Homo sapiens: one gene and its partner. The protein of the gene in region 2 purifies or fractionates together with the protein of the main gene of each other region. This does not show direct contact. Each region holds a gene or a part of one and is shown on either strand. Other genes may lie near its edges. The genes, in order: SLC6A4 and DGKD.

Evidence for each region.
Region 1: the proteins of DGKD (region 2) and SLC6A4 purify together in Homo sapiens (affinity purification with western blotting, with the first as the bait; one study listed by BioGRID). This does not show direct contact.

The regions. Positions count from the first base shown.
Region 1 is NC_000017.11:30,215,099-30,218,910, forward strand, and holds part of SLC6A4 (sodium-dependent serotonin transporter), read right to left. Parts: coding exon 3,699-3,812; intron 3,240-3,698; coding exon 3,020-3,239; intron 2,207-3,019; coding exon 2,068-2,206; intron 1,119-2,067; coding exon 984-1,118; intron 617-983; coding exon 513-616; intron 1-512.
Region 2 is NC_000002.12:233,455,326-233,459,137, forward strand, and holds part of DGKD (diacylglycerol kinase delta), read left to right. Parts: intron 1-1,573; coding exon 1,574-1,670; intron 1,671-1,895; coding exon 1,896-2,003; intron 2,004-2,958; coding exon 2,959-3,072; intron 3,073-3,812.

The DNA of each region.
Region 1 (3,812 bases), on a different chromosome or scaffold from region 2:
TCTGTCACTCAGGCTGGAGTGTAGTGGCAAGATCTCAGCTCACTGCAACTTCTCGTGCCTCAGCCTCCCAAGTGGCTGTGCTTACAGGTGTGCAACACCATGCCTGGCTAATCTTTGTATTTTTAGTACAGACAGGGTTTCGCCATGTTGGCCAGGTTAGCCTGGAACTCCTGACCTCAGGTGATCCACCTGCCTTGGCCTCCCAAAGTGCTGGGATTACAGGCGTGAGCCACCATGTCCAGCCTCTTATTATTTTTATATACAGGAGCGCTGACAAAACCGAAGGGCATGGGGCCCCTCTCAGCCTGAGTGGCCCAGGTGAAGCCACGGCCTGGATGAGTGCTCTGGCCATGGGTGAGCTGGTCAGGGGCCTGCAGCACCCCTGAGGGGCAGTGGTATCAAGGCCTAAGCCTGGCCAGATTCGAGGCCGTCGGTCCAATCACCTTCCTCCACACTAGCTGACTTTCACTCACGCCACTTTCAAGCTTTGCTTGGGGACCCCAGATACTCACTGGTAGCAGTTGTTGTTGAACTTGTTGTAGCTAGCAAAAGCCAGCAGGACCCCAAAGCCCGGACCAAGAGAGAAGAAGATCTGAGCGGCTGCATCTATCCACACCTGGAACACAGCAGGGGTAAGGGCATGGGGTGAGGGGGAGACACAGGCTTACCCTGGCACCAACAGGGTCGCCACTCCTGCCTCCATGTGGCTAAGTGCAGAGGCAGAAAAACAGCTTTTAAGGCTCATTCCAGGCATAGCCATAAACCAAGTGCCAACAAATGTGATTTCTCTTCCTATGATTCAGGCATAAACCCATCCAGTGGCCTCAACTGTACTTTAATGCTTGTATTTCTTGGTTAAAGTATCATTGCAGACTTGCACACTGAAGCCACATTTCAGTTGTCCCTACTGTCCTATTTGGAGGAGGACCAGCTTCGTTTAGTAAAATGACAGACAGGTACACATATTTCCCTCATCATCTTACCCCTGTCTCCAGGAGTTTCTGCCAATTGGGTTTCAAGTAGAAGAGAACACCCCTCCAGGCTCCAGGGAGGGTGGCACCCCTCACCAGCAGGACAGAAAGGATGATATAAGGGAAGGTGGCTGTCACCCACACCACCTGTAAGGAAGAAGGGTTATCACCATGCTGTTCCAGGGAGGGGAGGGGAGGGGAGGGGAGAAGGAGAAGGGAGCGGGGGAGGGGAGGGGAGGGGAGGGAGGTGGGTGAATGGATGTCAGTGTCTTTTATTCTTGAAGACCTTGAGAAAGGAGGGCGAGGTGGTGTGGCAGAAAGATCACAACCCTTGGAGTCACACAGGGATCGGATTCAGGTTGGCCAGGAGAACTACCTCTGAGCCCACTATGCATCTGTAAGGTTGAGGGAGTATCTAGCAGGAAACAATAGCACTGGCCAGTGTATAAAAAGCACTGAACATGGTCCATGATGGGTTTCCAGTAAGTCATTGCCACGATTATTAATTGTGGTACTACCAGTGGGTTGAAGGAATCTTGAAAAAAAAAAATCATGTAATGGTTCTTGGCATTGGCCCATTTCTAGAAAATATTCTTTTTTCTTTTCCTTTTTTTTTTTAGTGAGACAGAATTTCACTCTGCTGCCCAGGAGTGTAATGGCATGATCTTGGCTCACAGAAATCTCCACCTCCCAGGTTCAAGTGATTCTCTTGCCTCAGCCTCCCGAGTAGCTGGGATTACAGGCACCTGCCACCACACCTGGCTATTGTTTTTTTTTGTTTGTTTGTTTGTTTGTTTGTTTGTTTGTTTAAGTAGAGATGAGGTTTCGATGTGTTGGCCAGGCTGGTCTTGAACTCCTGGCCTCAAATGATCCACCCACCTCAGCCTCCCAAAGTGCTGGGATTAGAGACGTGAGCCACCATGCCCAACCCACTTCTAGAATTTTCTAACAAATGCGGTGAAGAGAGAGAGGGTGCATCATGGAATGTGTTTGGTGTGGAAGGAAACAGTGCTGTCTGTCCAGGCTACTGGGTTTTGAGTTTGAGAGCCTGTGGGCCCCTGGGCAGGCCTGGGTCAGCAGCCAGAGCCTTCCTCACCTTGCCAGAGGTCTTGACGCCTTTCCAGATGCTGAAGTAGATAACAGTGAAGATCAGCATGATGCAGAGGGCCAGCTGCCAGCTGATGCCCCCCAGGTCCTGGAGCCCCTTAGACCGGTGGATCTGCAGGACGTGGCGCCTGGGGTGAAGGAGAAAGAAAGGCCCCTGAGAGGCTCTGTAGAGTGACCTGGGCACACATCTGTGCTGCTCCTTTGAGGGTGCCCGGGACAAATGGACACGGTGCTGCTAGGACCAAGTGGTCACTGAGGCCCAGGAAGAGCTGGGATTGGCCCTGCCTGTCCTGAAGGACCACAAAGCACATTTGGCCAACACCCTGGGAAGAGTGTTCAACCTAAAGGCAGACTTCCTGGATTCTCCTTTGCTGGATGGGACCTGAACTCCTTTGACCAATGTGACTGGCTTTTGGGAACATGAGGGATGTGTAAGTGTGGGGAGTTGGCTCCCTTCCCTACCCCAAAGTAGCTCTCTCTTTGGGCTGCCATTGCCTGAAATTCCAGCATTAAAGAAAACTACCTTCCTCAAGCATCTTCTTCCAAAGGGTAGATCCCACTTACGAAGTTGACACATTAAACCATTTGAATAGTTTTGAACTATCAAAGTACTAGGATGCTTCGCCTCCATGACATTTGGCTGAGAGGAGGACCCCGGAAGAAGGGGAGTAATTTTGGAATGTGAAGGGAGGGACGGGCTTGGGCGCATTGGAGCAAACTGACTTGGCGCATGAGAAAGTGCAAGGAGGCACAGCAGGGCCAGGCCGTGGAGCACTTGAGGTAGAGTTTCCCAGCTCCAAATTCTGCTACTCCCACCCCTGATAGCTTCATCTCTCAGAAAGGGGTGAGGAGCCCTTGGCCCTGGCCTTCTTTTTAAGAAGCCAAACCCCAGGGGTGTGGCCTGCCCCTAACAGGCCAACCCCTCACTTACGTGCACTTACGTGTAAAATTCTTCAGCAGGGGACGTGGAATGGAGGGTCCAGGTGATGTTGTCCTCGGAGAAGTAATTGGTGCAGTTGCCAGTGTTCCAGGAGTTCTTGCAGCTGGTCCAGGGCAGCTGGTCCGTGAAGGAGGAGATGAGGTAGTATAGCGCCCAGGCCATGATGGTGTTGTAGTAGGAAGCAATGTAAAAGGCAATGATGCAGATGGCATAACCAATCCCTGGGCAGTGGGTGAGATGGAGAGACAGAGGCCGAGTTTAAGGGTGGCCCAACGGCAAAAGGCTGAAACGGGGCACTGGAGAGCCCCGCAGCCCAGCAGAGGGGTACACGTGGGTGCTGCCCTCCATTCCATTCCAAGGACTCCAGGCCACCGTGGGAAAAGTGGCCCTGCCGTTAGTCACTCATATGTATTTGCAAGGTAACATGTTTTAGAAAATGTGTACATGTCCTGTTAATGCTTTAAAATGTTTACATTAGTTTACTTCTCATTGCCGTTTATTCTGTTTCTCTTTGACAATTTCACACCACTTACGCAGTCAAAACCTTAATTACTCAAGCAGTCTCCCAGGGATGCCTAAGGCCTGACTGATTCCAGAAGAAGGTCCCCAGCTCCCACCCACTGATGGAAATCCCTTCCTGAGAGGCTCCACTTACCCACCCCACCGAGCCCTTCAGTTACCTTTGAAAATCGGGCAGATTTTCCTCCATATTGAAATGCATCCATTTCGGTGGTACTGTCCCAGTGCGAGCTCCATGTAAAAGAGCGGGATTCCCCCAAAAATGGCCATGATGG
Region 2 (3,812 bases):
GAGCGTGGGAGCCCCAAGGGGCATCACTGGGGGTTTCAGTTTTTTTCCTCTAAAATTACTGGATACTCAGTCCTGGCCTGAAGAGAGGATGGAGAAAAATGAGAAGGGTCCCTCTTCTCAAGCTTTTCTTCCTGGGCTGATGTAGAATTCTCTCTTGTCTGTGAAACACAAGAAGTGAGGGAGAAATGTCTCCCTCCCCACCCCACAGTAATAATCAGAGAGGCCATTCAGCTTTGACATGATTAGAACTACAGAGAGGGAGAAATGAGTGTGGGGGTTGACGGTGTTTGTGCAGAGAACAGCCCTTGACCCAGAAGCTGGGAGACCCTTGCTGGAGTCTTCGTCCGCTGAGTCAGGATGGGCTTGAATGAACCAAGCCACGTGGCCCCCTGTGGCCTCGCCCTCCTCATGGCGTCACTGCCACCTTGCGGGGAGCCATGCTGACACCTGAGGGTCCAGCTTTAGTCATTGCTCAGGTTACATGTAGTTGAAAATTTCTAGGAAAACAAAAGCATCAGAACTGAAAGAACTTTTGACTCTGAGGCTCTTCCATGCAGGAGAAAATGGCTCAGGGGCCCCAGGGACATATCCCTGTACAGCACAGGATGGTAACGTCAGATCATTTAAAAATCCCTGTTAGTCCAAAAATCACTGGGAAAAGTATTAAAATACACATACTTTAGCAGGGTAAAATAAGTAGTTGAGGAACAGGGGCATGCATAATACATTTCTAGAGCTTTGGAACCCTGGTCAAACCTCTCTTGAGTTTGTATTGAGAGCTTTGAAAAGTTCTCCTGAGAAAAATTCCACTTGTACAAATGTCATTGGAAATTTCTGCAGAAGTCATTGGAAATGTTGGTTGACGTAGGTACGAAGGGACTCCTAGCGTGTCATTTCCAGAGCTCAGGCATGGGGCGGAGGAGTGTAATCAAGGGGATTGGTTCGATAAGCTGTGGTAGAGCAGTGCCCGGCTGAGGATGGCCACATCTGCAGAGAGCGTGTGGCCACAGAAGGAAGCATTGCCGGCGCAGGGTAAAGTGGACCAAGTAGGTCGTGAAACTGTAAACAAGTTACTGCAACTGGAAATTAATATGCAAAGAAGACTGAGGAAATACATAGCAGCACTTGGCATTTGTCATTAGCACGTGTGGAGGGTGCCTACAGGTGCTGGATTATGCATGGAGGATTATGAGGAGTGTCTTCTCCTTGGTGCTTTTCTATATTTTCCAGTTTTTCTATGGTAAGCATAATTTTTTAGCCAGAAAAAATCAGGATGTGTAGAAGTTTTTTTATAGGGTTCTATAATGTTTTAACTTTATGTATTTACCTTTCAGGGTATGATTACTTTCTTGGCAAAATGTTACTATTGAGCAAAATTTCCTATTGGTAAACGTATCTTTTTATGCATATCTGCAAAAACAAAAATGTGTCCTTCAGATGTTACTGCTGTAAATAATTGCTAAATGTAGCTGATTTGTGGGTCAGATGCTGTTCCCAGCTTTCACAGAAATGACTCTGGTTAACTATACGAAGAAAGCCCAGACCTATGGCAAGTCTTTGCTTCTGTTTCTAGGAGCCGAACCAAGAACATGATGTGGTATGGAGTTCTTGGAACCAAAGAGTTGCTGCACAGAACCTACAAGAACCTGGAGCAAAAGGTCTTGCTGGAGGTGAGTGGGAGGGTCCTTGTCACCTGCAGGCTGGCCTCCATCCATCAGCAGACTGCCAGGCCTATTGCTTCTCCTGTTGACCATTTCCTCCATGCACAGGGACTTGCCTGGGGATGCCCTGGCCACGGCTGTGCTCCTGAGCCCCTGGCGGTGGGAAGCTGGTAGAGAAGGAGGGGCTGACTCATACCTTTCTCTTTTCTTTTGTTCTGTGTCTCTGCTGCTCAGTGTGACGGGCGACCCATCCCACTCCCCAGTCTTCAGGGAATTGCTGTCCTTAACATTCCCAGCTATGCCGGAGGAACCAACTTCTGGGGGGGTACCAAGGAAGATGATGTATGTATGGGGTGTGAGCGGGTGGGCCTGAGCTCAGTGGGGAAGAGCTGTCTGAGAGCAGGGGGGTGTTCTGCTGTGGCTGGGGTGGATCCAGCTCTTCTGTTGTGCCAGCAGTGGGGTTGCCGTGGAGAACAAGATAGACAGGGTCCCCCACCCAGCTCATCGTCTAGAGGGCTGAGCAGAGCAGTTGTGTCAGTGAAGGTGGTCAGTGAGGGTCTGTGGTCAGCAGATGTGGTCAGCGGGTGTGACGTGGAAGGAGGGTCAGGGAAGGTGTCTGGGAGGCCAAGACCTGAAGGATGAGTTGGAGTTGGCTAAGTTAGGTGGGCAGAGGAGAGGGGGAGGCTGTTCCAGGCAGAGAGAATTGCACAGATGAAGGCTCAGAGTCAAGACAGGGCAGGCACATGGAGGATGGGAGAGAGGTGCCCCGACTGCAGTGGGCAGCAGGGGCGTGGAGAGACAGGAGAGGGCTGCAGGGCCTGGGTCACACTGGGCTGTGTGAGCTGGGGAAGAAGTTTGGAATTTGTGTTAAGAACTGTGGGAAGGTGTTGATAGGTTTAAACCTGGTTTAAACCTTCCTTTGTACGTAATAGCGAATAGAAGTATTCAGCGCTTCCTGCACACGTGGTGTGTGCTGGCCCCAGTCCTGGCACTCTGCAGCGTTAACTCACTTGGCCCTACTGATGGCCCTGGAGGAGCGTGCCGTTAGTTTCCCCATTTTACGCATGAGGAAATGGGGGAGAGAGAGATTCAGTAACTTTGCCGAGATGAGAGCTGGGATTTGGTCCCAGGCAGCTGGTTTCAGGGCCTGCAACATGAAGCCCGTCAGGAGTGCAGTTACCTGGTAACTTCTCGCCAGCTAGGAGGGGCTGACCCCCAGAGGGAGGGAGTGAGGGTAGGGGCGGCCTGTGCTCGGGGATGTGTGGAGTGGTGGTCAGCTCTAACGTGTCCCTTGCAGACTTTCGCAGCTCCATCATTCGATGACAAGATTCTGGAGGTGGTCGCCGTGTTCGGCAGCATGCAGATGGCCGTCTCTCGAGTCATCAGGCTACAGCATCATCGGATCGCCCAGGTAGTGGCCATGGTCCTGGGGTGTCTGGCCGAGTCCCCAGCCCGGAGTGTGCTAAATTCTGGGGCAGTGCATGGAGCCTGGGAGGGTGGGCGCTTTCCAGGGCCATGTGGCTGCCTCATGTCCTGTCCTGGACAGCTCGTGGCCCCACTTCCTGGGCCAGAGCCCTTTCCTTGTGCTATGCTTGACAGTTAAATTCTCAAGATAACTCTTTTTAATTTTTTTTTTTTTTTTTGAGACAGAGTCTTGCTCTGTTGCCCAGGCTGGAGTGCAGTGGTGCAATCTCGGCTTGCTGCAACCTCCACCTCCCTGGTTCAAGTGATTCTCCCGCCTCAGCCTTCCGAGTAGCTGGGACTACAAGTGCCCACCACCATTCCCAGCTAATTTTTGTACTTCACCATGTTGGCCAGGCTGGTCTCGAACTCCTGACCTCAAATGATCCACCCACCTTGGCCTCCCAAAGTGTTGGGATTACAGGTGTGAGCCACTGCACCCGGCCAAGATAACTCTTTCAAAATGTGTATCCTGCTTGAACCACAGCCTTGCCTGTCCCCTCTGAGGTGGGATGAGATAGAGCAGACCCAGGCTGGACTCTGCCCGTGTCTGCAGCTGTCAAAGCCGCAGTGGGGACGGAGCCCATGGCTCTGATGTGGGGTGTGGGAGGATTTCCAGCTGGGGCCCTCGATCATGGTTCTGAGGCCGAGTGGTGAAGGGCTGGGGGTGCCCCCATGGCTTATTTCTGA